Linked DNA regions of Homo sapiens. The protein of the gene in region 1 purifies or fractionates together with the protein of each later gene. This does not show direct contact. Each region holds a gene or a part of one and is shown on either strand. Other genes may lie near its edges.

Region 1 (16,139 bases):
CTCAAGTGTCATGTGATATCATTTCTGTGGGGATTCTCGTTCAAAAATAATGAGACTAATGTTGATAAACGATCGAGATTTTTATTATGAGTTTCCGTAAAGGTGTAACACAGGGGTCTCTCCCAGAAAAATAGAAAGTAAAGCTTCCAACAATACTTCTCTATATCTCTCCTCCCTCCAAAGTTCCCTACTTATGACGGCTGCTAAAATTCTCCTCCTCTTTCAATCTCCCAATCCTTCCATGTTGTTATCTCACAGTTTTCTTTCTACCCTGTTCACTACCTTCTTCCCACATGGTGTAAAAGTGAGAAGCTTCTCTTGTACCCCTGCCCACCAACCATACATAGAAGACAGCTAATGGCCTCCCATTTCTCTCTCTCTTCTTGGCAAGAAGCATGTAGCATCCCCTACAAAGTATATTTTTCTCCTCCTGAATGATTTTTGCATGAGACATTTTCTTACAGAGAAATTCCGGGGACTAACATTCTCTACTTTGTTTTATGTATATATAATAAAGTATATAATATACATATAAAACAAAGGTGTATATATAAAGCCAGATATATATATCTGACTCATTGCAGCCTCAACCACCTGGGCTCAAGCAATCCTCCCACCTCAGCTTCCTGAGCAGCTAGGACTACAAGGCTGTGTCACCATGCCGGGCTAATTTCTAATTATTTTGTAGAGATAGGGTATCTCTATGCACCCAGGCTGATCTCAAACTCCCGTCTCAAACGATCCTCCTGCTTTGGCCTCCCAAAGTCCTGGGATTATAGGCATGAGCCACCACACCTGCCCCTTCTACTCTGTTGTATTTAGAAGGAGAGAATCTTATGGGAGAAATTCCTGTTTTAACTTGTTTTAATCTATTACATAGAAACTGTCTACAGGACTATACTAGATTTCTACTTTTCGTTAGTGAAGAAGAAAGTTGTTATACGGAAAAATCTTTTAATTTTTTCATTTTTTTGAGACAGACTCTCACTCTGTCGCTGTGCTAGAGTGCAGTGGCACGATCTCTCCCTATGTTTTCTCCTATTAGTTTTATAGTTTCAGGTTTTTAAGTCTTTAGTCCATTTTGAGTTGATTTTTGTATATGGTGTACCACAAGCTTTGTAAACACCCTGCCATCATAGTGGTGCTCTGACTTATCAATATTCTTTTTTAAAAGTGTGTCCTTTCTAACTGAATTAGTATGTTCAACAATTTTATTTATTTATTTATTTATTTTTGAGACAGAGTCTCACTCTGCTGCCCAGGCTGGAGTGTGTAAGTGGCACAATTATGGCTCACTGCAGGCTTGACCTCCTAGGCCCAAGTGGTCCTCCTGCCTCAGCCTCCTGAGTAGCTAGGACCACAGGCACACGCCACCACACCTGGCTAATTTTTTAACTTTTTGTACAGACAAGGTCTCACTCTGTTGCCCAGGTTGGTCTCAAATTCCTGGGCTTAAGTGATCCTCCCACCTTGGCCTCCAAAACTGTTGGGATTACAGGTGTGAGCCACTGTGTCTGCCCCAACAACATTTTTTGTCTAGCTTTTTCTCTTTTAAAGAAACAGTTGTGTTTTACATTTTTCAGGTAATTGAAGTTTATCCTTTCAACTAGTAAAAAAAGTTTTAAAACCAATCCTTTGTAACACAGAAATACCCCTTCGTATGATCTTTTAACTTAGTTTTATACATAAAAATAAATCTAGGCTGGGCATGGTGGCTCACACCTGTAATCCCAGCACTTTGGGAGGCCAAGGCTGGAGGATTACTTGAGAGACCAACCTGGGCAACACAGCAAGACTTCACCTCTACTAAAAATTTTAAAAAATTAGCCCGGTGTGGTGGTGCACTCCTGTAATCCCAGCTGCTTGGGAGGCTAATGCAGGAGGGTCACTTGAGCCTAGGAGGTCAAGGCTGCAGTGAGCTGTAATTGCACCACTGCATTCTAGCCTGGGCAACAGAGTGAGACCCTGTCTCAAATGAATGAACGAATACATAAATCTACCTTCTAGAACCATAGTATAGTAACTTTGTCTCCTTCCAGCAGATGGCACTGAAGATTGTGCACAGTAATTTAGTAATTTTAGTCTAGGGCAGTGCTTCCCAGCCTCTTCATGTTATAACATAGCTAGAAAATAAGGATATTTTTGTTGGGTAAAAGACAAGGATGCTTGCAGCCAAAGGAGACTAGCCTGAGGATCACTTGAGTACCCCCTAGTTGTCCCAATGTCTGAAGAGGATTAATATCTTAATACATCTTTTAATGAATTGCACTCATTCAGTGTGCCCTGGTGTAGTGGTGCCCTGATGTAGGTCATCTTTTTATTAATTTGGGGCCTATTATGAGTTTATGTTTTAAAATGTGCTTTATAAATATTAATCCCAACATTGATGTCAGTGAGAAAGCAGTGAGAATTTTGAAGGTGGTAGTAAGAGTGATGTGAAGATTAAAAAAGCAGAGATTGAAAAATGAAAATTCATAGTAATAAATATACAATAAAGTGGTATGACCCAGTTGAAATTGGGAACAATTCTGAAAAGCAAAGAGTGACTCATGCCATATGAAAATGCCATTTGCTATGGACTGAATTCTGTACCTCCAAAATCCATATGTTGAAGCCCTAACCCCACATGTAACTATATTGAAGAGAGGGCCTTTAAGGAGGTGATTAAGGTTAAATGCAGTCGTAAAGGCAGAGCCTTGTCCAATAGAACTGGTGCCCTTATACCGAGACACCAGACAACTTTCTCTCTCCCCATCTCTGCCTGCCATGTATGGACCAGTGAGAAGGTGGCCATCTACAAGCCAGGAGGAGAACCTTTACCAGAACCTGATCATGCTGGCACTCTCATCTCAGACTTCCAGCTTCCAGAATTGTGGGAAAACACATTTCTGTTGTTTAAGCCACCTCGTTTAAGGTATTTTGTTATGGTGGCCAAAGCAGACTAATTCACCATTTTTATATAACAATAATCAGTAAGAAGAAAAGTAATTGACAAAATGTACACACTGTTGACCATGTGATGAGAGGATCAGTGTCAACTCTGGGCACCCATTAACCCATTAGGAGATGGTTCAAGTATCTTAAAGGCCTAAGAAAGTAAAGTTATGGAAAGCAAGAGCGCTAGGCACATTTTAATCTGTACAACATCAACATGAGTGGTAGCAGGTGTGAATATACGCCAGCTGCTAAGAAGTTCCTTTAGGCTCATTAAGGAGGGGCATTTCCTTCCTTAAGGGACTTCAAATGTAAATCCAACAAAAAATGCCCTTTGGAACCTTGCTACTCAAAGTGTGGTCCATGGATCAGCAGCATCAGCATCAGCATCACCTGGGAGCTTGCTAGAAATGCAGATTCTCAGGTCATTCTAACCCTACCCAATAAGCATCTTCATTTTAACGTGATCATCAAGAGATTCATATGCGCCTTAGTCTGGGTTGCACCACTATACAACTTATATCAGTAAAAAGAAGAGTAAGCTTTGTTCTAAAGTTTCAAAGGACTGCCTCACTTTTCTGTTTTCTGGAAATGCATATGTGGCTTACTCCGAACTTGTGAGTATTGGGACTTACGAACAATGGAAATTTTGGAACCTAACCTGTTCATATGTAAGAGTTTCTAAAGTTCCAAAATGGGTTCTGTATTCCTCTGGTCTTCTGAAACAGAGTACAGAACATAATTTAATTTTTCTTTGCAATTGAGGACCAAATCTATGAATATCTGTTTTGGTCCTGATATATGGTGATGTCATAAAGCGCTTTCAAGTTATAAAGCAGGTGTTCGGTATGTGACAGTTCCCTTCACTTTATTTCCTTCAGAATACTAGGTTATAAATTTCTCAGATGGCAGAGACTTGTGGACTATGTTTATCATATTTCCAGTGGAATACATAGGGTTGTTCAATGTAACTAATTGTGTCAGAATACCGTGCATTTTTAATTCATTTTTCTAATTGTCTTGTTTTTCCTGTGCTTATTCTGCCAACTAATAGAGATTGCTCCTCTCAAACTACCTATATTAACAGCATTTCCTTCCCTTGCCTTGTGATTCATAGTTTCTAATCTGCTGTGGACTAGTTAAGTGTCTAACTACAGAAATTACAGCATGTCTGAAACAACAGCCAAATAGTTTATGTGACAATCAGAGAATTTCCTGTAAGTGCATGCACTATTGTTCATGAGTTGACTATGTGGTAATTATTTGCCAATAATCTCATCTTTTATTTTTCTTTTAGTATCTTAGTTGTGTTTTAGACCACTGAAATGTAAATGAGAGTTAAATGACATCAACATAAGTGATCAAATATTATTAAAGTCAGTGAAATTATTTATTCTCATGATAATGCGTGGTGAAACTCAACTGGAATGCCATAATGAAAAGAAGAAACAAAGATTCACTAAGAGCAAAAAAAAAAAAAAAAAAACACAGCCAGGATTGTTTTTAATTCAAGAAATACAAATACAAGTCAGTAGGAATATATAGAAAAGTTTCTGCATACCTTTGAAAACAGACCATATCTTATTCATTTTTGTATCCCCAATACCTAGCCTATTATAAATGTAATAAATCTGTAAATGGATCAGATAAAGGAGGAAAAAGCAGAAAACTGTTTCTTCATATTGGGAGATGGACACCTAATAGAGAATGCCACTAAAAGGGAAGGAGTGATCTACAAACGCCAAATGTGATTTACAAACTAGAGAATAAAAACCCTAGTGAGAAATATGGAAAGCCAGGCTACGATAAAGAATTGACATTTCTTGGCTGGGCATGGTGGCTCACGTCTGTAATCCCAGCACTTTGGGAGGCCGAGGCAGGCAGATCACCTGAGGTCAGGAGTTTGAGACCACCCTGGCCAACATGGTGAAACCCCATTATCTACTAAAAATACAACAATTAGCCAGGAGTGATGGTGCATACCTGTAGCCCCAGCTACTCAGGAGGCTGAGGCAGGAGAATCGCTTGAACCCAGGAGGTGGAGGTTACAGAGAGCCAAGATGGCGCCACTGTACTCCCGACTGGGTGACAGTCTCAAAAAAAAAAAAAGAGCTGACATTTCTTGAGCTAGAGATAGGCGTTCAGTTGTCCAAGGCTCCCACTTCTGTTATAGAGAATAGAGTCCTAAGTTGGGGATGACAAATAGTAACACACGTATTATTTCACTTCCATATATGCAGCAGAGATTAATTCAATTACCCACTCTTTCTCACTGAACAGACTTGGCCTCAGCATCTGCATCAACACTATACCTCAGAGAATCTGAGTTGACATAGGAAACATCATAATTGGCATTTGTGACACTGTAATCACAAATCTACAAAATATCACTTTTATTGGTCTGTAAAAGATTGAAGAGATGTCCTGAAAGAAAGGACCATCATCTTCCAAAGTAAGAGAATGAACCAATTCAGCTTAACTCTGCTATTCAAAAGCAGTGGTCCTCAAACTTCCCCATGCATCAGAATTGCCTGGAGAGCTTGCTGTAGGGCCCTATCTCCACCACTTCTGAATCAGTATACGGTCCAGGGTTTGGGCCCACAAATCTGCATTTCAAAAACTCTGAGATCTACCATTGTAGAGTACACTGGAACAAATTCTAAATATGAAAAACTGAAAATCTTTTGACAGCAAGACAGTAAATCATAACTAGCATAGCTTTATGAAGAAAAATGTAAATTAACCCAGTATAGTTTATAGTAAAGCAATGGTCTGGAGCTAAATAATCCTTGGTTTGACCGCTGGTTCTGCTAATTCCAGGTTCATGATTTTTACTAAGATTACTTCAGCTCTATAAACATTAGTTTCTTCACAGATAAAATAGGGATAAGAAAAATATCCCATGGAGTTATTGTTAGGATTAAATAGAAAAAAATACATATCTAGATTTACAAGCACAGTGCCTAGTAGATGGTTCAATCCTATTCATTCAATTCTTCATCCTTTTTTCACTTATAGTAGTAATGGAAATTAAAGCAAAAGAGTGAAATATTTTCATAAAGGTTGTAGTGTTTGTCAGGAGGAAAAATATCTACCTTCTAGAAGGGGTGCCACGGCAGCGACAGCACAAGGCCCGTGCGTCTGGGGTTCCTGTAACAAAAGAAAGGCATATGAATGTATGATATTTAATGTAAGTTTTACATGGCACCAGAGCCTTCATAAGGAAACGAAGACCTGAAGAAACCTGAGCGTTTTATACCAAGCTTGATGAAGAGTAGACTGTTATGGAAAACTGTGATAAGACAAAAAGATGGGCTAAGGGCAGTAAACTGGGGGAAACCTACCAAGGCCTATTCATTTAGATTCCTCTTGGCGTCTCTCTGTCTTCACAAATAAGACTGCTTCTTTTCTCCAGGTATAGAGAGGGCATCTCTCACATGAGGGTCTTATGACCTGCTTCATGGGAAGGTCAGAGTCCTCACACCTGCCATTTCTCAAATTCCATCAGCTTAAAACATTCAATATGCCAAGGTGTTATATTTTGGGGTAGTGTGCCCTGAACACCATCATAAACATGCTAGAAAAATTCTACAGCAAATTAGTGGACAAGGGGAAGGAGCTTAGGTATTAAAGATTGTGGAGAAGATCTATTAAAACACAGGGCCCCAATCCTCCTCTTAAGGAGTCTCCCCTTAAGAGACAGGGTTCACTTTCATCCCATATACTTCTGATTAAAAGGAGCCTCTTATACCCAGGAGAATACATTCCAGGTGCAGAAAGCCAATTACCTAGTTATTCCCTTACCCACGTAATTATAGACCTTAATCCAAATTCAAAGGACTCCTGGGAGATGCTGGAATCTGTAATTGTGTAATCTCTTTGATGAAGCACAGAGTGTGATCTTTTGCTCATGTGGGGCTAGGTTTCTGTGGAGAAGCTGGAAATGCTGTGGAAAAGGGCTTGCCCCTTTTGTGTATATGAACTCTAATGTAGTTGAAATTCCTAGAAGTCAAAGATATAAATCTAACTACTAAAATTCATTTAGTGCATTAAAATGCCAGTTATTAATTTACGGCAACAACTAAAGGGAAGCTTTGTATTATTCTAGGACTACAATGCAATTTATGCTTTGCATAATCATTCAGTAAATGACTTATTGCTCCAGAAATACCATCTTGCTAGATCCCATTCTGAATTCAGTGTTTCTGAGCAATCTCATCTCCAATACAGAGTGATGACATACTCAGGATTCCAAGACGGCAAAATGACTTGGGTAATGTAGTCTAGGGCCTGCCAGTGAGTATGCTGAGACAGACCAGAAAGACTTAAAGATTCCACTAATGTAGACAAAGCAAGCTGAGCCACAACTTCTCGGAACACCAACAGGATGCACCAACAATCGACAAAAAAAAAAAAAAAAAAGGAGATAAAGTTTAAAGTTTGTCTTCCAGCATTCCCTTACCCTATTTTCCCCTTCCTCTTCCCTACTTTATCAGTGGGAAAAGTTCTCAATAATGCAATTCTTACTGAGATTCTTGTGTTTATCAGAGAAATGTTTCCTCTTTCTTTGCCAAGGAATTATATATTCCCAACAGACATGGCGCTTGAATGCTATATTTCCTTTGGAATCAAGAAAGGGGAGGTGGGGGAATCAAAAATTAAAAACCAAACCCAAGCCATTGTTCCTCTTCGAGGAAGGGTGGGTGGTCAGTCGTCGCCTGAGCTCCGAACATCAACCCGCGGCTCTCAAGTTCCCCTCCCAGTAATGCTGGGCCCAGCCTCGCCGCGGCCGATCCAGCCTCTGCCCTAGGTGGAAGCGGGCCACCCGGTCCCTTCACCCACTGAGGCCCAGTCCTTTCGCCTCAACACGAAGGCACCTGGCCGGGCCGGAGCAGCAGCCGCGGGGCCGGCACTGGGGCCACGGAACCCCGGGCCAGACTCAGGCCTGGGCCAGCTCGGCTCCGGCCTGCAGGGGGCGCTGCGGCGGCACCGGCGCGAGGCCCGCGCGTGCGGGGAGCGACCCCAGGTGTAAGTCCCGGGGCGTGGGGCGCGTGGGTCAAGGCGGAGCGACCCAGGATCCCCGCGCCCGCGGCGGCCGCCGAGTGGCAGCGCTGGACTCGCGGAGAAGCTTGGGTACCTGAGCCGCGGTCCCGGGTGACACCCTCAGTGACGCCAGGCGCGTTCCTTCCTCTTCCTCTCTCCTCTCCGGCCCCGCCTTCCCTTCCCTCCGCCCACCTCCCTGAAGCGGAGCCGCCGTCGCCACCAGCGCCGTCATGTCGGCCCCCGCCGGGTCCTCTCACCCGGCCGCCAGCGCCCGGATCCCGCCCAAGTTCGGCGGAGCGGCCGTCTCAGGAGCCGCAGCGCCCGCGGGCCCGGGTGCGGGCCCGGCGCCGCACCAGCAGAACGGTGAGGCGGGCGGCCCGGGCGGAGCGCGGGGCCTAGCACCGGCTGGGCGGCCTGCACGGCCACATCGGGGCGGGGCGGGCCGGGCCGGGAAGGGCGTTCGGGGCCAGGCCCGGCCCGAGGGACGGGAGCGGGCGCGGTGCGGAGGCCGCGGGGTCCGGGTTGGGTGCGGGTAGGGGGCAGGGAAGGCACGGCGCGGGGCGCGCGGGGGTGGGACGCCCCTGGCGTGGGGGCGGGGGCCGGCCTGGGAAAGCTGGGGCCGTGGCTGTTTATGTAATGCGACCCCAGGCCCGAAACGGCCTCGGGCGAGTAGGGGCGACTGAAAAGCTGGGAGCCCACGTAGTAAAACCCAGTTACCTAGCCTGGACGCGGGCGAGTTGCCCCGAGCGACCCCTTGGCTGCGAGAGCTGGCCAGAAGCCGAGGCCGCTGAGTGCGTGGTCCGGAGAAGGCTGGTGCAGCCACCCAGCAGGGTGGATTGTGCCCTTCCTGTCTCAGGAAAATTGCTTCGGTTCCCGAGGCCCAGCGAACACGCTGCCTTGAGGAAACTTAAGTTTGCACTCAAGTTTGTAGACAAAAGGGTGTAAATATGCTATATAAGTGTAACTGTAACCCTGACCCAGTTCGGCCTCAAGAACTGTCATTGCCGCTGCGGCTGCTGCTCAAGCTTTTGGAGTTTGCTTGTAGTGTTTGAAAGGGAGCAGATGTAAACGGATTTAAACGAACATCTTTAGATCTGGGTGTTTTTCCTAGCTCCACTTTCAGAGATGAAAAAACGTGCCAGAGTTGGCCCTGCTTTGAGGCAGGGCCTTCATACAGGCAGCAGCCAAATGCAGCACGAAAGCCGCTTTCATATTAAGGTCGTGGGCTTTTAGTAGGCTGCAAAATGATGGATATGCATTCCCTAATGCTGAGATTTGGAATGTTCGCGGATAGGGGCCAAGGGTGGAGGAATTCTCCTTACAGACTTCTTAGTATGTCAGATGAGAACCTTGGAAAGTAATTGACTGAATTTAGAAAAATACCTCTGTCCTGTGTTGGTACGAGAACCAAACTGCATTAGTACTCTCCAGATGATTGACCTGTTTTATCTAATTTCCTAATGAAAATCTGCTGGACTTTATGAATTAGTTTAATCAACATCTAAGTTTTACAACTGATGCTTTTCAAACATGAAGTGTATCGTTTGTCCTGAGGATCAGAAGTTGAGTGATACTTTAGCCTTAATATTCTTTGGATCAGCCTTACCTATCAGTATTACATGCTGTACTCTCAGTAGTCATTGTTTACTATAATCGCTTTTGGATATAAACCTGTTCTGAACAAATGTAAAAATACTATTTGTGAGCAGTGTTTGTTCTTGTAACCTTAATATAAGTTCTTGTTTTTGTTTGTTTTTAAAATAGCTTTATGAAGGAACTAGAACACGATAATTTAGTAAAAGAGCCCAAGTCTTTTAGAACATTGTAGACTCATGTTTACCAGTGATTCAAGGATTGTGTCTTTCCTTGATTTTCTGAATATGCATTATCATCTTAGTGAACAGTTTTTAAAGTGGCAAATGTTTATTACAGCCTTATAAATTTTGTGAACACTCAAGAATGCCAGGATATGTACTCAGCCAAGTGTAATCAGGATGTTAAAATCTGTAAGAACAAATCAATGTTTTGATGCCAAATATAGATGATGCTTGAGTTCTCTTGTTTATAATCACTACTTTCCTTTAATGTTGCAATAATCATTTCAACATTTATTGCATGCTTACCAGTTGGGGACTCAAGGTTAGGGTAGCAGATGAGACAGAGTCCCTGCCTCTCTCCTGACTTGCCCTGTATTTGGTAATGTTTGAATTGGTTCTGGCTAGCCTTGAGGGACTCGACAGGTTGGGGTGGGAGGGAAAGGTTGACTCTAGGCAGAGGTTACAGCATGAACTAAAGTTTGGAAATATGAAAGTGCAGGGCATGCTTGGAAAGTGGAAGGAGTCAAGAGGTGCAGAGGGTGCTGGGTGGCATGGGAAGCCAAGGCATCGAAGCCGAAAGGAGCAGGTTAAAAGGGGTCAGGTTGCAGAAAGGCCTTAAATGTTATGCTAGGAAATTTGAAAGTTATGGTAAAGTGTAAGAACTAGGGTCAGGTAGAGTACGAGGTCTCCCTGTGTTGCCCAGGCTGGTCTGCTGGGCTCAGGTGATCCTCACACCTTATCCTCCAGAAGGATTTTTGTTTTTGTGGAAGGGATTAGTTTAAGTAGAGAAACAAGATTAAATCTCTTTTTGTTTTGTTTGCTAATCTCAAAAAAAAAAAGTTTGCTACGTGGTATCAGCATGTAGTAAGCAGTCATTTGGGTTTCTCATTTATTTTTCAGTCCTACAAAAGTAGTTAGCCTTTTAATATATCTCTATGGAATTCCAGACATGGTGAAAAAGAAATAGGTCAGAAATATGAGCATAAAACAGACAGAATTGTAAAACTGGAATGGTACCTAGAAATCACTCACTTCAGTGTTGTGGTGTGATATGAAATACGTTTGGCCTTTGTCCTGGGTTCCTGTAACAGCTCCTAAAACCCTTGTAATTTCCTGAGTGATAGGAGTGTCGCTTGCTACTCATAAGGAGTCTTTTGATCACATTTGAGTTTGTGCTAATGAGATGACTTAGGATGGGTCTCCTAGACAGCCTCAGGCTGGAGCTGGTAACCAGAAAGACCAAGTAATTAGAGAGTTGGGACTTTGAGTCCCCACCCATCATCCCCTTTGAAGGGGAGTGGATAGGCTGGAGATGAAGCTTTATAAAAACTCTGGAACAGTAAGATTTGGTGACCTTCTGGGTTGCTGAACATGTGGAGATGCTGGGAGGGTGGCGGCACCTGCCCCCATCCTTTGCCCTGTACATCTCTTTCATTTGGCTGTTCATCTGTATCCTTTGTAATATCCTTTATAATAAACAATAAATTTAAATGTTTTCCTGACTTCCACAAGCCCTTCTACCAAAGTAATTGAACCTAAGGAGGGGGTAGTAGAAACTCCAGTTTGTAACTGGTTCCTCAGAAGTACAGATGGCAACCTGCTACTTGTGATACTTATGATAGGCATCTGAAGTGGGGAGCCATCTTGTGGGACTGAACCCTTAATCTGTGGGATCCGAGTCTAACTTCAGGTAGGTAGTGTCAGAATTGAATTGAGTTGGAGGACCCCCAGTTGGTGTCTGTTGGGGAAAAATAAAAACAAAAATTCACACATCTGGTCACAGAAGTGGTCTGTGCAGAATGAGAGTAGAGTGAAAGAAGTTTTTTGTTTTTTATTGTTTGTTTTAGAGACAGGGTGTCACTCTGCCACCCAGGCTGGAGTCAGTGACTCCATCATAGCTAACTGCAGCCTCAACCTCCTGGGCTCAAGTGATCCTCCTGCCTCAGCTTCCCAAGTAGCTAGGACTATAGGCATGCACTACCACTCCTGGCTAATTATTTTTATTTTTATTTTTGTAGAGACTGAGTCTCACCATGTTGCCCAGGCTGTTCTCTAACTCCTGGCCTCAAGTGATCGTCCTGGCTAGACCTACCAAAGTCTTGCGATTATAGGTGTGAGCCACTGGGCTGGGCCCTGTTTTTTCTTTTACAAGTGGTTAGCAAATGGCAAACTTTTTTTGTTTGTTTGAGACGGAGTCTCGCTGTGTCGCCCAGGCTGGAGTGCAGTGGCACGATCTCAGCTCACTGCAACCTCCACCTCCTGGGTTCAAGCGATTCTCCTGCCTCAGCCTGCTGAGTAGCTGGGCCTACAGGCGCACACCACCACTCCTGGGTAATTTTTGTATTTTTAGTAGAGATGGAGTTTCACCATGTTGGCCAGGATGGTCTCCATCTCCTGACCTTGTGATCCACCTGCCTCGGCCTCCCAGAGTGCTCGGATTACAGACGTGAGCCACCGTGCCTGGCCCACAAACGTTTTTTAAGATTTGTTTTTCCAAAGGATATTGTATATAGATCCCTGATAGAGAAATCAGAAAAAAGCAAAGTGGTTGCGGTTAAAATAGAAGTAGAAGTTCAGTTGTTTTTAAGCACAGTTTGAAAAACACATAGTTTGGATCCCTACCTTTACAGATGAAATGAAGATTCAGAAAGGTTAAGTAGGTACATTTTCTACCAATTCTGTGAAAGCTTTGTGAGGGTGGCAGTTTTTTCTGTCTCTTGTTCACGTTGTATAATAAGAGCCTAGAACAGTATAGGCAAGTTACAGGTATTCATTAGACATGTATTAAATGAAGTCCATTTTATTTTTGCTAATTCCAACTCTAGATCTCTTCTTAAAACTTTTTGTCTGTTTGTTTATTTATTTATTTATTTTAGAGACAGAATCTCACTCTGTCACCCAAGCTGGAGTACAGTGTTGCCATCATAGCTCACTGCAGCCTTGAACTCCTGGGCTCAAGCAGTCTTCCCACCATGGCTTCCTGAGTAGCTGGGACTATAGGTGTGTGACACCATACCCAGCTAACTTTTAAAAAAAAATTTGTAGAGACTGATCTCAAACTCCTGGCTTCAAGTGATCCTCCCATCTAGACTTCCCAAAGTGCTGGGATTACAGGCATGAGCCACCATGCCCAGCCTAAAGATCTCTTTCTGTTAACAGACTCTAAGAAAATTCTTTTTAGAAACTTTGATGTTTGAGAAGAAAGGAATAGAGAGGCAGAAAACCTAGTCTTCATGATCACTTTTACTTGTTTTCTAGGTGTAACTGCTAGCATGTTTCCTCCACTTATTCGAAGATACAGCTTGACTTGATTTCAAGTCTGTGAAATCTTTCTCTTAAGCTTCCTTCCTTGGTGTTGTATTTCTATCCTTCATTTTTCATTGAGCAATATATGGATTTTTAAAACTATTTGTATTTCCATACCAAGCATTAATTGAATATTTCTTACCTTTTACTCTGCCTTTTGGGATTCCTTCCAAAGCTGAGTCCTCAAACGTAGGAAGACTGACTAAAGTAATAGCCTGGTAATGAACTTGTTGGGAGGTGAGGGGATGGGGCAGTCAGATTTAATAATAAGCTGCTGCTTTTTAATTTTACTTTTAGGAAGCAAATGGTGTTCATTTTCAAATGAAAGTATATTTTAATCCTTCCATATGCCCTTTTCCAGAATGAAACTACAGTTTTATCACTTTAATTGTTAATAATGCAAGAAAGATGAGATAGTAATGGGAATTACTAGAACTCACTATGGAAGATGTAAATAAACATACCATTCATACAGCAGTACTATCGGGTCAGTCACTGGAAACCCTTAAACTTTGAGGGCACATGCAGCATTTAAAATGATATAAATCTCCCTAGTGTATCTCAAATAAGTTCCTTTTGATCAGAGCCACATCAGTGTCTCAGGTTTCTAGTCTCCATTTATAGCTAACCGGAAGCATCAGGTCCTCTCATGAATATACCCCTGTGGTATTAAAGTGACTGTGTCTGAATACATAATTTCCTCCTAAGCTGATTTTTTTTTTTTTTTTTTTTTTTTTTTTTTTTTTTTTTTTTTTTTGAGACTGAGTTTCAGTCTTGTTGACCAGGCTGGAATACAATGGCACAATCTCAGCTCACTGCAACCTCCGCCTCCCGGGTTCAAGCGATTCTCCTGCTCAGCCTCCCGAGTAGCTGGGATTACAGGCATGCGCCACCATGCCTGGCTAATTTTGTATTTTTAGTAGAGACAGGGTTTCACTATATTGATCAGGCTGGTCTTGAACTGCTGACCTCAGATGATCCACCCGCCTTAGCCTCCCAAAGTGCTGGGATTACAGGCGTGAGCCACTGAGCCTGGCTCTAAGCTGATTGATAGATATCTCAAAGATCTTAAAGTAGGCCGAGCATGGTGGCTTACGCCTGTAATCCAAGCACTTTGGGAGGCTGAGGCGGGCGGATCACTTGAGGTCAGGAGTTTGAGACCAGCCTGGACGACAGGATGAAACCCGTCTCTACTAAAAATACAAAAATTAGCCAGGCGTGGTGGCAGGTGCCTGTAATCCCAGCTACTCGGGAGGCTGAGGCAGGAGAATCACTTGAACCTGGGAGGTGGAGGTCGTGGTGAGCCAAGATTGTGCCATTGCACTCCAGCCTGGGGGACAAGAGCGAGACTTCGTCGCAAAAAAAAAAAAAAGATCTTAAAGTATTCACTCCATATGTAAACAAGGGTCTTATATCTGGGTTTAATTTTTATTTTTTATTGCTATATATATTGCTTTAGTTGTTTGCAGTGTCTTTTCACTCCCTTCCTCTCCCCCCAAGTTTCTGGGATTGTAGCAGTAATTAATTTTGTAAACCATATTCATTGCCACCACTAGTATTTCATGTTACTTTATCTTTCCAATTCATCTGTAATTCCTGAAGTATTTTATGCTAAAGGTATTAGAATAATTTTCTTTCCTAGAAATGAGGCATCTTCATTGTCAGCATTGTTAGAAAAGATCATGTTATATATATTCAGCCCTGGAGAAGCTACTATTTTCAATAGGCTGAGCATACTCAGAATTGTCCAGAAGGAGTGGACTAGTGAAAAGGTTGTAGGCTTTGATATAGCCCAAATTTTTGTGGAGAAACTTACTTAACATGCTTCAGAGTATAATAATACCTTTCTTACAGAGTTGTTTATAGAACTACATTTAATAAGGTACTATTTTTAAAGTACTTAGCCCTAGAAGGAGCTTAGCAATTAGAGTCCCTCCCTTCCATTTTCTTCAGAACACCGTTTTATAAATTCTTCAGGTGGCAGAAACCATATGAGTTTTCTTCATCATATGCCCAGTAGTAGCAGCTTGTAATAGGCACTCAGTTAAGTGAACTTGGTTTCCTATTCGTTATTGCTTTTGAAGACTGGCCACTGACAGGAGTCTGTGTGCCAGCTCCCTCTCCCCTTTTTTGTATTTAAGGCTCAATCACTATTTTAGTCTTCTCTTTATTTTCTTCTGCTTTCCAGTCCTCCATCCCTTATGTCCGCAAATGCATTCTTGGAAGGTTTCTGGTAATAGGCCATCTATTTTAGCTAGTTTGCTTATGGAAAGGTAAGTTTAATGGGTTTTAAGTTTTCTAAAATTGTGTGCCAGAAGTCATTTGTAACAGGAACTGAGGAAAAGCAGGATGAAGTAGCGAGAGGGAGTGGTAAAATCATGTCTTGCCTAGCCAGTGGCCAAGTCTTAACTTGTTTTCCTTAGGATTTCTGATTAATGGATATTGTGAAATGAGGTATAAGCCTGGCTTTGGAACCAGCAATGCCTGGCTTCTTTGCTCCTTACCAACGATTTGAATTCGTATGAATTAGTGGGCTTTCATGGCCCTGTTTATTTGTATATAAAAGATGATAGTGATACTTCACAGAATTGTTTGAGAAGCATATCAGATTATATGTAGAAAAGCAAGGTATCTGGCATGTAGTAGATTCTGAACCAATATTGATTTTCTTTTCTTTCTGTATTTTGAGACAGGGCCTCACTTTGTCACCCAGGCTGGAGTGCAGTGATATGATCACAGCTCACTGCAGTCTTGACCTCCCCGGGTTAAGGTGATTCTCCCACTTCAGCCTCCTGAGTAGCTAGGACTACAGGGGCATGCCACTATGCCCAGCTAATTTTTGTATTTTTTGTAGAGATGGGGTTTCACCATGTTGCCCAGGCTCAAGTGATTCTCCTACCTTGGCCTCCCAGAGTGCTGGGATTACAGCGTGAGCCACCATGTGTGGCCTTGGTTGTCTTTTGGCCCCTCACTCATAGCACTCATTGTCGTGGTATCCAAGAAGGATAATTGATGTTGTAGCAGGAATAATCTATACTT
Region 2 (15,766 bases), on another chromosome or scaffold:
GGGGCTCGTGCCTGGGGTGACACGGCTCCCAGGACACCATGCGTGAGTCTGGCCCTCCTGGCAGCTCGGGGCTCTTCTCCTCTCAGCCTCGGAGGGATGAAGGTCCCACCCAGCCATCCTGGGGACAGCCCCTCAGGGAGCTCTGCAGCAGGCAGGGGGCTGCATAGGGAGGGCCTTGAGGCAGTGGCATGACCCCTCTACGGGCTGGAGACCACAGGGAGGACTCTGGCCCCTATAGGAGGGCAAAGGGAGCTGTCGAAGCCTATGAGCAGGGCAGCATGGGTCGTGGCAGAGTCTGGAAAGTTGTGTGATCCTAAGGAACTGGCTGAGCGAGGCAGAGGCGGCCTGGTCCTGGGGCCCTGCCCCTGAATAGAGCTGCCAGCCTCACACAAGGGTGGGCCCCTTCTCTCCCCACTGCCTGGGCCTCTGCCCAGCCCCAGACCTTCAGGGCAGGCCAGTGGCTTCAAACCAGAGCGGTGGGGAGTCTGAGATCCCTCTTTGGATTGCAAAGCACTGCCTGCCCTGGGCCCAGTCTCTCCAAGGAGGGATGTGAGCCCGAGGCCTCTACTATGGCTGGGGGCTGCGTCTGCCAGCCAGCGCTGGGCACCAGGACCAGGAGGGGCCACCGTGGAACTGCAGTGAGTGGCCTGACTCTTGTCTTCAAAGGGGGTGACCCAGCCGGAGTCCTGCCCATAAAACTCCCAGCACCCTGAAATTCCACTCCTGGGGGTCTGTCCGAAAGAAGTGAAAACAGGGACTCAAACAAACGCACGTGGCCACTTGCTGTCCCGGCATCACTCAGTACAGCCACAGACAGCCTGAGCGTCCACTGCCAACGACGGGTCAGCAAAACCGTCTGCTGTGACGGTGAACCTTAGTGTCAGCTTGGCCGGGCCATTTCGCCAAACGGAGTGTGTCTCTGAGGTGTTCTGGATGAGGTTCGCATTTGCATCCACAGCCCGGGTAAGGCAGTCCGCCCTCCCCAGTGTGGGTGGGCCCCGTGCGGTCCGCTGAGGCCTGGGGAGAACAATAGGCCGAGTGCCAGGGGTCCTCCCACCCAACCGCTTGCACTGGACATTGGTCTTTTCCTGCCTTCAGACTTGGACTGAAAACGTGGGCTCTTCCTGGGCCTGGAGCCCACCGGCCTTCGGACTCGCAACGCCATCAGGCCTCCTGCCTGCAACTGCAGACCCTGGGAACTGCAGGCCTCGAGGTCGTGTGGCCAATTCCCTGCAATAACCTCTCCAGTGGCACGTCTTATGGGCTCCGCTTGCCGGAAGAACCCTGACGAATGCGCACGAGGGAATATGATTCCACCGTAGAAAAGGAGGCGCTGACACCCACCATGCGGACAAGCCTTGGAAGCACGGTGCTCAGTGAAGGGTGCCGGCCGCAAAGGGCCGCAGGTGCAGTGACTCCATTTCTATGGGGTGCCTGTGGTCACCGAACCCATGGAGACAGAAAGTAGATTGATGGTTCCCAGAGCCGGGGGGAGGAGGAAAGGGGAGTGGCTGCTAAACGGCCCGGGGTTTTTTTTTGTTTTGTTTTGTTTTTATACTTTAAGTTTTAGTTTATTGTGGCACTGTTCACAATAGCAAAGACTTGGAACCAACCCAAATGTCCAACAATGATAGACTAGATTAAGAAAATGTGGCACATATATACCATGGAATACTATGCAGCCATAAAAAATGATGAGTTCATGTCCTTTGTAGGGACGTGGATGAAGACGGCCCGGGGTTTTACTTTGGAGTGACGCAAATGTTCTGGGCCCAGGGAGAGGTGGTGCGTGCACAGCCCTTCGAGTGCACTAAATGCCAATAACGCGGACACTTTTTTTTTTTTTTTTTGAGACGGAGTCTCGCTCTGTCACCCAGGCTGGAATGTGGTGGCGTGATCTTGGCTCACTGCAACCTCCGCCTCTGTGTTCAAGTGATTCTCCTGCCTCAGCCTCCAAAGTAACTGGGATTACAGGCCCCTACCACCACACCCGGCTAATTTTTTTGTATTTTTAGTAGAGATTGGGTTTCACCATGTTGGCCAGGCTGGTTTCAAACTCCTGATCTCAAGTGATCCACCCGCCTCGGCCTCTTAAAGTGCTGAGGTTACAGGCGTGAGCCACTGCACCTGGCCTAACTCGTACACTTTAAAGTGGTTAATTTTAGGTTCTGTGAGTCTCACCTCAATATGTTATTTTTTTTTTTTAATTAAAAAAAGTTTTTGAGACAGGGTCTTGCTCTGTCACCCAGGCTGGAGTGCAGTGGTGCCATGATAGCTTATTGCAGCCTCAACCTCCTGGGCCCAGGTGATCCTCCCACCTTGGTCTCTCTAGCAGCTGGGATTACAGGTGCACACCACCTCACCCACCCAATTTTTTTGTTATTTTTTGCAGAGATGGGGTCTCACTTTGTTGCCCAGGTTGGTCTCGAACTCCTGAGCTCATGCAGTCCTCTCCTCACCTTGGCCTCCCAGAGTGCTGGGATTACAGGTGTGGGCCACTGCGCCTGGCCACATATGCAACTTTAAATATTTCAGTAGCCACATTAAAAAGGTAAAAAGAAACAGGCAAAGTGTATATTAATACTACAGCTTAGTTAATCCAATATATCAAAAATATTATTTTAACACAACATAAAAAGTGAATGAGTTTTTTTTTGTTGTTTTTTGTTTTTTGAGACAGAGTCTCCCTCTGTCACCCAGGCTGGAGTGCAGTGGTGCGATCTCAGCTCACTGCAACTTCCGCCTCCCGGGTTCAAGCGATTCTCCTGCCTCAGCCTCCCGAGTAGCTGGGATTACAGGCACCTGCCACCACGCCCAGCTAATTTTTGTATTTTTAGTAGAGAGGGGGTTTCACCATGTTGGCCAGGCTGGTCTTGATCTCTTGACCTCGTGATCGGCCCACCTCGGCCTCCCAAAGTGCTGGGATTATAGGCGTAAGCCACCACGCCCGGCCGTGAATGAGATGTTTTATATTCTTTTTGTTTGTTTGTTTTTGGTACTGTGTCTTTGAAACCCAGGATGTACAGTACACTCACAGCACCCTAGATTGGGCCTGGCCACACTTTAAAAGGTGTTCAGTATCTCCAGGAGGCTCACGTCCAGATTCGGACTCTTCAGCAGGATGCCAAGGGGGCTCCAGACAGTTCCACCCAGCGCAGGAAAACACCAAGTGTATCTTCAGCCTGGTGACTCACTCCACGCCGCTGCCGGCGTGAACCCCGAGTGTGGCGCTGCGTCCCTCTGGATAGAGCAAAGGAGGGTCCCAAGAGCCCGGAGGCACCAACTCATCAGGGCCCACAAATCAGGCCCCCGGCAGGCAGGGCTGCCTCCATCCAAGAGGGAAGCACGGTGCCGTAGCCCCCGGGCTGCTCCAGGGATCGACAGGCCTGTGCTGCCTTCATCCCAAAAGTCTCACTTGCAAAGGGTGTCCGTGGGGCTCAACTGCGTGCTCAGCGGTGGACTGATTTCGTTCTGTGTGGCTCCTTATCTCATCGTGGACCCAAATCCACGAACCACACATGAGGAGCTCTGCTGGAGGGGGCAGCACTGGGCAGAGGCAGACAAGGGGGAGCGTCACGCGGCTGTTTCCCGTGGTGAGCATCCACCAGCAGCGGTTCCTGGTGGGACACCGACGTATTCGTCTGCAAAAGTAAAAGTGTTTCAAAACAAAACCGGGTCCAGCTTGGTCCCGGTGCGTTGAAAGTGCTGGCGTTGGCCAGGCGTGGTGGCTCACGCCTGTAATCCCAGCACTTTGGGAGGCTGAGGCGGGTGGATCACAAGGTCAGGAGATTGAGACCATCCTGGCTAACACGGTGAAACCCCGTCTCTACTAAAAAATACAAAAAATTAGCCGGGCGTGGTGGCAGGCGCCTGTAGTCCTAGCTACTTGGGAGGCTGAGGCAGGAGAATGGCGTGAACCTGGGAGGCGGAGCTTGCAGTGAGCAGAGATCATGCCTCTGCACTCCAGCCTGGGCGACAGAGCAAGACACTCTCACAAAAAAAAAAAAAAAAAAAAAAAAAAAAAAAAAAAGTGCTGGCGTTAGTGGAGGTCTCTCAGAGGGGGCGTTGCAGGGCCTCCCACGTTACTCAGGCTTTGCAGACGAAGACGCAGGGTCAGTGAGTGAGCGAGCTTTGGGAAAGGCTGTTCTTCAATCTGCATCTTGAAGGTGGCTGGGTGGCGCCTCAGTCGCCTGCCCCGACGTGACTCCCGATCTGGCTGCTTTGTGTCTTTGCTTTCCACCTGGCGGCTGCTGTCCTGGCTGTTGCTGTACCTCAGTGTCCTCGTGGGTCAAGTGGGGACCTGGGTGCTGGCCCTGGGCCTGCGATGGTGAGCTGCTGGTGCACGCTGGGCATGGGGTGAGGGCTCAGAAAGGGAACAGCTCTTGTTATCGTTAGGAGGTTTTCAATCGCATTCTTTGTTCTCCACCTGCATGCCGTGTTGGCACAGTTAAGCCTGGCGGCCCCTTCAGCAGGTGTCCTAACCGTCTACATTTTAAGATGGACAAGTCTAGGCTCATGGAGATTGCAGGACTGAGCTGCGAAGCTTTATTCATGCCCAACACGACAGGTGCCAGGTGCCCAGGGCCTCAGAGGTGGGTTTCCGTTGTTCTTCACACAACCTTGAACTTGTGGCCCATCCCTGGACCTTACAGCACAGGACACACTCTCAGTGTTTGTTAGGAATCTATAATTTTCTGCGGAGTCACGCGTGATATTTGCTGTGGCTTTTGGTATATCTTCCACTCTATCGCACGGGATTTTCTGGTGAAAATGTGCCCTGGGTCCACACAAACGTGCACATTCTACCACAGCCTTTGTCGTTCTGTTTGGCATTTTTCCATTTAATAAAATGAACCTTAGAAAAGTTATAACTACGGCCAGGCGTGGTGGCTCACACCTGTCATCCCAGCACTTCGGGAGGCCGAGGCGAGAGGATCACCTGTGGTCAGGAGTTCCACACCAGCCTGGTCAACTGGTGAAACCCCCCTCTCCACTAAAAATACAAAAATTAGCTGGGCACCATGGTGGGCACCTAGAATCTCAGCTACTTGGGGGGGCTGAGGCAGGAGAATTGCTTGAATTCGGAAGGAGGAGGTTGCAGTGAGCTGAGATTGCACCACTGCACTCCAGCCTGGGGGATACAGTGAGACTCGGTCTCAAAAAAAAAAAAGAAAAGTGTATAACTTTACTTTTTTTTCTTTTTGTGGAGATGGAATCTTGCTATGTTGCCCAGGCTGGTCTCAAACCCCTAGGTTCAAGTGATCCTCCCACTTTGGCCTCCCAAAATGCTGAGACGACAGATGGGAGCAACCTCACCTGGCAAGCGTGCACCTGTTACTTTGGCCGACTCAGAGGCGGCTCTCTGCCTCCCCCTGGTGGCACTGCTCTGCCAGCGCCCCACAGGTCCTCCCGAGTGACCACAGGGCAGAAATGGCCCTCACCCCACGCCCAGGGCCATCCCCCGCGACACTGCTATTATCCTGTTTTACACATGAGGAAGCTGGGGCTCAAAGAGGTTAGGCGACTTAGCCAAGTTCGCCCATTCACTGAGCCAGGGCTATGTGATTCCCGGTCCGTGTCAAACCACGAGGAGTCACCTGCCCTCAGAGGAGCAGGAAGGCCTGTAGAGTTGATGCCATCCAGCCTGGTGACTTTTCAGACAGGGAGACGGCTGCTCAGAGGGGAGAAGGGGGTTGTTGGGCCACTTTGCCAGGAGTCAATACCATGGCCAGCCTGGCATCGGATACTTTGCCAGGAGTTAATGCCACGACTGGCCTGGCATCGAATACTGGAGCTCTTCCCAGCTCCACCCGGGCCCTTTTCTCTTCCCTATCTACAGTCCCCAGGCCACCAAGTCCATGTCCACCACTTAAATCATCACTCAATGCTCAGGACTGTCTCCTGCCTGCTGTGTGTGAACCCCGTGCTGTGCTGGGGTTGTGCCCTCGGGGACTCTCCCGGGTTCTTGGGGACTCTCCTGGGTTCAGCGCCTCTTTCTCCTAGGCCACCCAAGGCTGCCTCCTGGGCCCTGGCTCTCCCTAGCCCCTAGCTCGAACCCTAACCTGGAGAGCCTTTGGGGCCCAAACTGGTTGCATCGCTCCTGGCTGAAAAGCCTCTGGAAGCTTCCTATACTTCCAGACACCACCTGCGGGTCTCTTAGCAAGCCTACAGAGTCCACACTAGCCTACGCCCACTGGCCGCTCACCCCGCAGAAGCCTCATGTGGACTGTTCACTTCAGCCAGAAATGCTCCTTCTCCTCCTGCCTGTCCCCAGCAGACACTGCATGGTGCCCTCTGTATGGGCACCTCTGTGGCCAGCCAGCATCCATGTTCCCCGGAGGCAGAGTCTGGGCTTGTCTGTCTCACGGCCACAGCCCAGCTCCTAGCAGTGCCTGGGGTACAGCAGGGACTCAGCAGACATCTGTGCATGGTTTGGGGATAGAGGACTCGTGAGCTTACCAAGACCCTGCCTCAGCTCAAGGACAGCCAGCAGTTCCTCCTGTGGCCCTGGGGGCCTGCGGTCCCAGGTTACTGTGACATCGACATCAGCCTTGAGCTTTCTGCTTCATTCCTAGTGCTTTTTAGCACCTTACATGGTAAGTACTTGGCTCAATGATTCCAGAAAAATGTTCTCTGAGACCTGCTATGTGCCCAACATGCTTGAAGATGCTGGAGATGAGGAGCATGACGCTCCTGCAGTAACGAGGCTGCTGGCAATGCCGTCAATGTGCCCTGTGCCTCCGGGGAGGCCTGGTGTGGAGGATACGCTTGCCACCCTGTGAGGTCAGGTCCAGGAAGTCCTTGCAGGAGGCCGGGAAAGGGCAAGGCTGTCACCTTCTTTTACAGGGGAGGAGGCAGAGGCTTGGAAAGGCCAGGTAGCTTGCCCAAGGCTGAACACCTGGGTAGTGGCTGAGGGTCTCTGACTTCTGGAAGCTTGCAGTACAGCTGGACACACGGTAGTTAGCCCACCATTGCTGGAGCCATCTTACCTGTGCTCTGCTAGCCAGGTGGGCGCCCAAAAGGAGATGCCTTTGCCTGTGCTGGGAGGAGGCGCTGTGGGACCCATTCCCCAGCAGCCGAGAGCAAGGGCACATGTGCCAGGGCGGGGATGCACCTTCAGCCTCATGTCAGCCCTGGGAAGGCCTAGAAAGTGGACAGTGCTGTCTCGCTGCACACCCCTGGCGAGCACACCGGGCGAGCACTCCAGGTTAGGGTGGGGCTCAGAGGTGAGTAGAACACGGGAAGGGGGTGGCAGCGTGGTGAGCATGTTTGCGGACCCTATGCTGTGTGCTTGGCAGGCCTTGTGCATGGAAGTGAGTGGGACTGAAGCTCCCTCCACACTGCCCACCATGGCCCTGGGGGTCTGGCCTTCCCCTCACAGAGGTGACTTCCTCTCCTCTATGAGGGTAAGAAGAGGAAGCCTGGCCCACCCTCTGGCCAGCCTGGTGGCATGCTGACAGGGAACCCCTGCAGGGGCCTGATGAACAAACGCCACAGAACAAACTCTACGGACCCTGCCTCCAGATCTGCTTCCTCTCCCCTGATTCCAGCTTCCCAGCCCTATTCCCTCCTCCTCCAGGAAGAGCTCCGTGTCAGTGCTCTCCACCTTGGAGGCCTTCATATGTTTTTTTGCCTGGACCACCCAGCTAACCGTCTCACAGAGACTGCCCCTTCCTCTCTCCAGGCCAAGCCTCCAGCTTCAGCGTCCAGGACTAAGGGTCTGTGTCAGGGGCTGAGGACAGTGTCCGGCAGGGAGCAGGCCTGCCCAGTAAACCTCCACAAGCACCCAGACATACTCGCCACTGCTATTTTACACCAGGTAGGAAAGAGGAGCAGAAGCTCACAGTGAGGGGCCGTCCTGCGTTCACTGAGACTGCTGCTCTGCTGGGGGCTCCCTGGAGGACCGCCACTGGCCCGCCAGTTGTCAGCAAAGAGCCAGGTCCACCCATCAGCCTCTGGCATTTCAGGCCCCTATCATAGGAGGCTATAAGCACAGGCTAGGGGTGCTGAGTGCCTGCCTTCTAGACCAACACTGTCCAGTGGAAATGTAACACCAGCCCCATGTGGAGTTTTACATTTCCCAGCAGCTATGTCAAAAACAAAAGAAACAGGTGAAATAAAATTAAATAGTATTTTGTTTAATCTGATACATCCAAGATATTGTCATTTTAATATGCAATAAAAAATGATTGATTCGATATTTGCATCCTTCACAACCTACCATGTAGTTTACACTCAGAGCCCAGCTCAGTCTCACAGCAAGCACCAGCGGCCCCCGTGCTGGACAGCATGGCTAATGGGAGGAGCTGACCCGTCGGAGGCACCAAGGTCACGCTGTGACCAAGGCTGTGGTGACGCAAAGGCAGCGGGTTTCCTGGCACAGCCTGGAGGTGCACCAGCCTGTCCTGTGTGCTCTGCATAATGTGGTACAGCAGTGGTCACAGAGCTTTGCACCAGATGCTGATTCCAGCCCACCTAGGGGGGTTCAGGGAAGTGGTGACACTTGTGTCCAGCCTCCAGGTGTGAGCAGGGGCAGAGACTTGGAGAATGGAGAAACCAGCGGATGCTGCAGGCAAAAGCAGCAAAGCCCCACCAGGAATAGTGATGGCCACCACCGGCGGGACACCTCCCAGCACTGGGTGGAGGCCTCTGCTGGCTCGCAGTCAGTCACCTGATGTCCCCATTCGCCCCTGCCATGCTTGTTGTCCTGGCAACCCCATTTCAGCCCTGAAACGTTTAGGTGCTCATCTTGCTCTATCTTAGAGATGAAGACCTGATGCTCAGAGACTAAGGAAGTTGAAAAAGGGCACACAGCGTCTCAGGGGCAGGCTGGGCCTTCAACGGAAGGGTCTATGGCCCAGAGGCTGGATGGGCTCGGGTGTAGGGTGCAGGAACCCTCCACTCCACATCAGGCTACAAACTGCTGAGAGCTGTCTCCGTGCACTCAGGATTAGGGAGAAGAGGGGGAAGAAAGACAGCCGCGCCCCCTGCAGGTGATGTGGTGATTCACACCCCTAGGAGCCAACAGAAGCCGCTGTCTAACATCCCTGCCCTGAGGTCCAGAGACCTTGCATTTTATGCCTAGGGCAGGGTTGGTTTCTGCAGCTATGGTCTCTCCCATAGCTTAGTGCCCACCCCGGTGGGACCACAGGGTTTCGGAGGACCCTAGAGGGTCGAGCCCTGGGCTCCTGGCTCTTGGGTTCTTTGAACTCGCGAGCGGCAAAAGGCGAGCCCCACGCCTGAGAGGCAGCATCCACCTCTGCATCCCCCTCTTTGGAAAGGGCAAACAATGACACCTCCTTCCGCGGAGGGTGCAGAGCGCCTCGACCACTGGGAAGAAGCAGATGGGGGCAGCGGGGCTGGGGCTGGGCCCTACCACGTGCTCCCTAACTCTGTTCAAACAGGTCAGGAATCTGACTCCTGAAAGGCAAATGTTAGCTGAGCAGATTGGCCCTGGTGCCACGTCAGCCGGACTGAAGCTCTCCCTGCACCGCCTGCGGCCCTGCTGGCGTGGCACGGATATCACCCCCTCCCTCACCAGCCGCCGGCCCAGCTGGGGACAAGGGTGGCTCCCACCCAGGGAGGACCTCAGCCGCTGCTGGGAGCTCAGCCTCCCGCGATGCCATCGGGCGGGCACCCCCACCACGGCGCCTGCCCTCTGGAAGGAGCAGCAGAGGAAGGCCGCGGCTCTTCCCTGCCCTTGCCAGGCAGGTGTGCAGGTGAGTGGGCCCGGCATGGCTGGCCGCTTCCTCAACCGCTCAGCCTCCCTCGGCTCCTCCGAAAAATGAGGGCACAGAGGATAGTGCCCACCTGTTCCCTGCGATCTTCCGCGGGAGGGCGTGGATGCTGCCTGGCCTGGCCGTGGCAGGCACAGGAGCGCCTACCCGCCTCACCCCTCCGCTGGGTCGCTCTGGCCGCCCGAGCGCCCGGGCCCACTCGCCACCGACGTGCACTCAGCCAAGGCTGGGACCCCAGCGCCCCTGTGGGGCTGGCGGCCGGGGGAACGAACCGAGTAGGCCGCACCTCCCCGGGAGGACAGCAGGGCTGGGGCCAGGGTGGGCCTGGGAGGGCCCGGCGCAGCAAAGGCGCAGGGCGGAGCTTGGGGACGAGGAGCCCGCGCGTCCCCCTTGCGAGTCGGCGGACACCCGGCTCCGCGCGGTGGCCGGGCCGCCCCTCCCTGCCCGGGCCTCTGTGCAGAGCGAAGGGACAGTAGAGGATGCGTCGGGGAAACCCCAGGACGCTGGCCAGGGACTGGCGGCAGCCATCGACCAACTTCCGGCGCCGCTCGGTGCCCGCGGCCACGCCGTAACCAGGCAACCAGCGCGCAGGCGCAGTCGGCCCTCCGCGTCCCGCAGCTCCGGCCGCTCCCGGCGCATGCGCGGCCGCCGCCGCCTGCCCTCCAGCCTCCCAGCCCAACGGAAGAATGCGAGGAGCGCGCCCGCGTCAGGGCCCCGCGCTTCTCAGCTGGGCGGAGTAGCCGTTCTCGGTGCGTGAGCCTGCTGGCATCGGTCCTGCAGACTGATTTCCCGCTTGTGGCCTTGATTGAAGAATCCCATCTCTTCTCACATCTTAAAACGAAAAAAGACTGGGAGAAAGAGCCAGCGTAAACAGGGCGACGTACTGGGACGGCCCCGGCGCGCCTGGCCGGGCAGGTGGCGAGGGGCGGGGCCAAGCGGTGAGGCGGCAGACGGACGCCGGAGGGGGGCGGGGCCACGGGCGGGGAAGGACGGCCGAGGGGCGGGGCCAAAGGGGCGGGAACGACAGGATGAGGCGGAGAAAGACGGACGACGGGCGGGGCTAAGGGGGCGGGACGAAAGAATGAGGCGAGGAACGACGGAAGAGGGGCGGGGCCAAGGGGAGCGGGAACTACAGGATAAGGCGTGGAAGACGGGCGGGGGGCGGGACGAAAGAATGAGGCGGGGAAGAACGGACGCCGGCGAGGGGCGGGGGCAGAGGGGGCGGGACAGAGGGATGAGGCGGGGAGGACGGACGCCGGCGAGGGGCGGGGCCGAGGGATGGGCTGTGAAGGGCTGAAAGAGAACGCGTCTGGGCCGACGAGCCGAGGGGCGGGGCCAGGGGCGGGGCGCGCGCTGATGTCGTAAGCCGGACACGTCGGCGGCGCGGCGGCCGCGGAGACCCGAGCCGGATGTGCCAAGATGGCTGCGGCGGCTGAGGTGTCTGTGCTCGTCGCCAGCGTCGGGTGGGCTTTCGCCCGCGGCTCCTGAGGGATCGGTCTCAGCCGCGCGGGTGAGGGGGCGAGCGCGGGTGAGGGGGCGAGCGCGGGAGGAGGAAGGCGGAGGCCGGCCGGCGGAGCCAGGCCGTGGAGGTCGGGGCGCGGAGGAGAGGAGGCGGCTGGGCCCAGCCCCGAGCGGGCGGTGCATCTCGGGTCCCGCCGGGGCCGGTCGAGGGGACAGACGTCCGGGCCCCCGGGCCAGAGCGGAAGGCCGGACGCGGCGCGGGCCGCCGTGGGACTCGAGGGACTGACGTGGACCCGGCTGGGCTGCGGTGACGCCGGTTCCCGGGGCGGGAGGCTGGACCCCCAGGCACCCCTCGTAAGACTCTTAACTTTTCAAATGAGCGTGTCTTGTCCTCACCGGCTAGAAGGCTTCCTTAGCGATGCTGGTGAAGAGACACATTTACATTTGAACCAAAGAGCAGAGTTGTTTGTTTGTAATTTCTTGATTGGGCGATCAGGATGTTGCAACAGAGGCCGAGGGTTAGAGGAGTGTGTGTGATCCGGCTCGCCCCTTTGTGATGGAAGTGTTACAGTAGAGCCTTCAGAAACATCAGAGCCATTTAAAGTCAGTTTTTGCCGCTTAAGAACACTTTTAAATGGCTTGTAAGTTGGGTGTGGATTGTATATTAAGATTTTGTTTTACATGTGTGATGCCGATGTTAACCAAAGAGGTATTTCCCATCCCCCATGTGGCAATACGAAGCAAACGGAACCGCAGACGGTTCTTCCTAGAAGTGATACTTTTGCAAGTTTCAGCACAATGCAGCCTCCCTGCGTTTTTTCCTCATCCCCTTTCTTAAGTTTCAGGTGCTGGTATCTTGTAGACAAGAGGCAAAATAGCGTGTCTTTCTTGTTCCTTGTTCCTCGTTTACTGTTAATAGTGGTTACTACAGTGAGTCTCAAAATTGTACTTAAAGTTTTCTTTGAGGCAGTGGGCACTTTTTTTTTCTTTTTCTTTGTCTTTTTTTGCCAAATCCAGCAAGAGGTCATGGTAGTGGGTAAATGTTAATGTGATTTCTTCTTCTGTAAGCATCTTTCATGAATACCAGGGTCTTCGTCATTTTCATCAGTGTTAGGCTGCTGGCCTCCTCTGTCGCTGGCTTCCTCTTCAACATCTAACTGTATGTGGTTGCGATTCTAACTTAGAAGAGTTGGAGTTGATCATGTCTTTGTGTCAAGCATCCCACAGTCTGACAGGGCGTCACTAGCAGCCACCGTGAGGGAGACTGTAGGCAGTAGGTAAACTCAGGGGCTTCCTGGCACACTATTGTTTTCCTCACTTAAAATATGAAGCCAGTGGCAGCAAGAGGAGAGGGGTGTGCATGCATTTTAAATGCCTCAGTTCTGTAGCCAGAACTGTACTAAAAAGAGTTTTGCTTAGGTATCCACATGGTTACAAGGCAGTTTAACTGACTAGCTAGGTTTATGAATACTGCATTTTCAAGATCAGCTGGCCTCTTTGGAACAATAAAAGAATTAGATGACTTGAGGTTACAGAATAAAATTCCCTGGGCCGGGCGCGGTGGCTCATGCCTGTAATCCCAGCACTCTGGGAGGCTGAGGCGGGCGGATCACGAGGTCAGGAGATCGAGACCATCCTGGCTAACACGGTGAAACCCCGTCTCTACTGAAAATACAAAAAAAAATTAGCCGGGCGAGGTGGCGGGCGCCTGTAGTCCCAGCTACGCTGGAGGCTGAGGCAGGAGAATGGCGTGAACCCCGGGGGGCGGAGCCTGCAGTGAGCCGAGATCGCGCCACTGCACTCCAGCCTGGGTGAAAGAGCAAGACTCCGTCTCAAAAAAAAAAAAAAAAAAAAAAAGAATAAAATTCCCTGTAGTGGTGACATAGGTGATAGGCAGTTGCATTGTTTTTCTCCTGGTGAGTAGAGAAAAAGATCAAAAAAATCAGTTCAAGTCACAAGATTGTTCCAAATGAAAGTGGCATGTTGCTAAAAAGCTCTCAATTAGGGAGCATGAAGGTTGGAATGCTCCTTGTAAGTGATAATGTTTGCCATAAAAAAGCTCTTAGTCTAGGAGAGCTGCGGAATAATTTTTTTTTTTTTGAGACGGAGTCTCGCTCTGCCCAGGCGGGAGTGCAGTGGCGCGATCTCAGCTCACTGCAAGCTCCGCCTCCCAGGTTTACGCCATTCTCCTGCCTCAGCCTCCCGAGTAGCTGGGATTACAGGCGCCCGCCACCACGCCCGGCTAATTTTTTGTATTTTAGTAGAGACGGGGTTTCACCGTGTTAGCCAGGATGGTCTCGATCTTCTGACCTCTTGATCTGCCCGCCTCGGCCTCCCAAAGTGCTGGGATTACAGGTGTGAGCCACCGTGCCCGGCCACCCCTGTTAAACAGCAGGTGGGATTAGGACATCCCAGAATCCACTGTGAGTAGAATCTCATAAGATTAAACCCGGGTTTTTTAGGAAAAAATAATCACATCGATTCTCGCATTTTATAGACAAAAATACATTGCAGAAAGAGGAGTGGCTGCCTCGAGCCACTCACCTGGACACTCAGTTTTGCTCTCACAGCAGCAGCCAAGGAATAAACCTCTAGGCCCGTGCTCTGTGTTTAAAGCAAACAAAAGCTTTTGAGGATGATAAGGATCTTCCCGGGGAAGGCCATGTCTTGAGAGATGAGGTAGGACCCCAGTTCTGGCAGCAGAGTTTCAGGAGGTGCTTGGAAGTTTGCGTGTTCTGGCCGTGGTTGCAGGTGTCGCTGTGTCTGCTGTGGCTGTGCAGCTGGTAGGACCCAGTGGAAGATAATGCCAGTGCACAGATCAGAGGAAGATGCTCTGCCTGTTCTCCTTTCAGTCCATATAAAATAGAGCTGTGAACATTCTTTGTTTTCAGATGAGAGCCTAAAACCTCCATGAAGCCTTTGCTGCTGTTCCTAGTAAATAGCTTGACTTAAAATACATTGATCAGTGTTTTCTTCTTTTTTTTTTTGAGACAGTTTCACTCTGTCGCCCAGGCTGGAGTGTTGTGGCTTGAACAAGGCTCACTGCAGCCTCAACCTCCCTGGCTCAAGCGATCTTCCCACCTCAGCCTCCCGAGTAGTTGGGACTACAGGCACGCACCACCACGACCGGCATTTTTTTTTTGGTGATGGGGTATCGCTGTGTGTTGCCCAGGCTGGTCTCAAACTGCTGAACTCGAGTGGTCCTCCTACCTCCCAAAGTGCTCGGCTTACAGGTGTGAGCCACTGCACCTGGCCAGTGTTTTCTTCTTTTATCTGAATATCAGAAAGATTTCCAAGAGACCAAAATAATATACATCTGCAAAGATGTGTGGATTGGCCAGGCACGGTGGCTCACGCCTGTAATCCCAGCACTTTGGGAGGCCGAGGCGGGTGGATTATGAGGTCAGGAGATCAAGACCATCCTGGCTAACATGGTGAAACCCCATCTCTACTGAAAAGACAAAAAATTAGCCTGGCATGGTGGCAGGTGCCTGTAGTCCCAGCTGCTCAGGAGGCTGAGGCAGGAGAATGGCATGAACCTGGGAGGCGGAGCTTGCAGTGAGCCGAGATCGCACCACTGCACCCCAGTCTGGGCGACAGAGCAAGACTCCGTCTCAAAAAAAAAAATGTGTGGATTAAACTACAGAGTCCTCCCCTTTGGTTTAATTTTTCCTTTGATTGGCTAAACTTATCTGTTTGTTCATGAGGGTGGTGCTGACAAGAAGAAAGACTGATAGAAAGAAAAGAACTTTCCTAAAGATATAGTCCTTGAATTTTTGCCTTAAGAGGCCAGGTTAACTATTCAAGTTTGTATCTACTATGTTTTATTTAAAAACTGATGGAGGTTTTTGCCCCTTTCTTTTCTGTAAGAGGTTTCTTGGCAATTCTGCCTGTTGTTGAAAGTGTTGGAATCCAGTCTGTGCCTTGTAAAGCTGCTTTAAGTTTCCTGGGAGTTTCCATTCCAGGCACAGTTACGGCTCCAGTTCAAAGGTAACATCTTGCTGGTGGTCCTTTCAGACCTTAAGCCAGTCACAGTACAAAAACGGAGACCTATGAAGAGGTGTGATAAAAGGCATTTAGATGAATATATTTATTTTGCAGTGCTTTTTAAAAAAATGATTGTGTCACTTTTTATTTATTTATTTTTTTAAAATAGAGACCGTCTTGCTCTGTTGCCCAGGCTGGACCGCGGTGGTATAATCATAGCTCACTGCAGCCTCGAACTCATGGACACAAGTGATCTTCCTTCCTTAACCCCCTGAGTCCCTGGGACTACAGGTGTGTGCCACCATGTCTGGCTAACTTTCTTCTTTTGTAGAGACAAGGTCTTGCTATGTTGCCCAGGCTGGTCTCGACCTCCTGGGCTCTGGCAGTCCTTCCACCTTGACCTCCCAAAGTGCTGGGATTACAGGCATGAGCCACTGCACCCAGCCTATTTTGCAGCTTTTATAACTATACTTCATAATGCTCTTTCATCAAAGAAAATGGAAGAATGAATTTTAAACTTTTGTATCCCTTTTGAAATTTAAAATTAACATGTATGGAAAGTATGATATAAAGTTTTCCTT

What was found.
Region 2: the proteins of SEC24B (region 1) and SEC16A purify together in Homo sapiens (affinity purification with western blotting; 2 studies listed by BioGRID and IntAct, with this or other methods). This does not show direct contact.

What each region holds. Positions count from the first base shown.
Region 1 is NC_000004.12:109,425,663-109,441,801, forward strand, and holds the start of SEC24B (protein transport protein Sec24B), read left to right. Parts: upstream 1-8,152; 5' UTR 8,153-8,207; coding exon 8,208-8,340; intron 8,341-16,139. UniProt on the Homo sapiens protein: Component of the coat protein complex II (COPII) which promotes the formation of transport vesicles from the endoplasmic reticulum (ER).
Region 2 is NC_000009.12:136,478,419-136,494,184, reverse strand, and holds the start of SEC16A (protein transport protein Sec16A), read left to right. Parts: upstream 1-11,144; 5' UTR 11,145-11,247; intron 11,248-15,354; 5' UTR 15,355-15,476; intron 15,477-15,766. UniProt on the Homo sapiens protein: Acts as a molecular scaffold that plays a key role in the organization of the endoplasmic reticulum exit sites (ERES), also known as transitional endoplasmic reticulum (tER).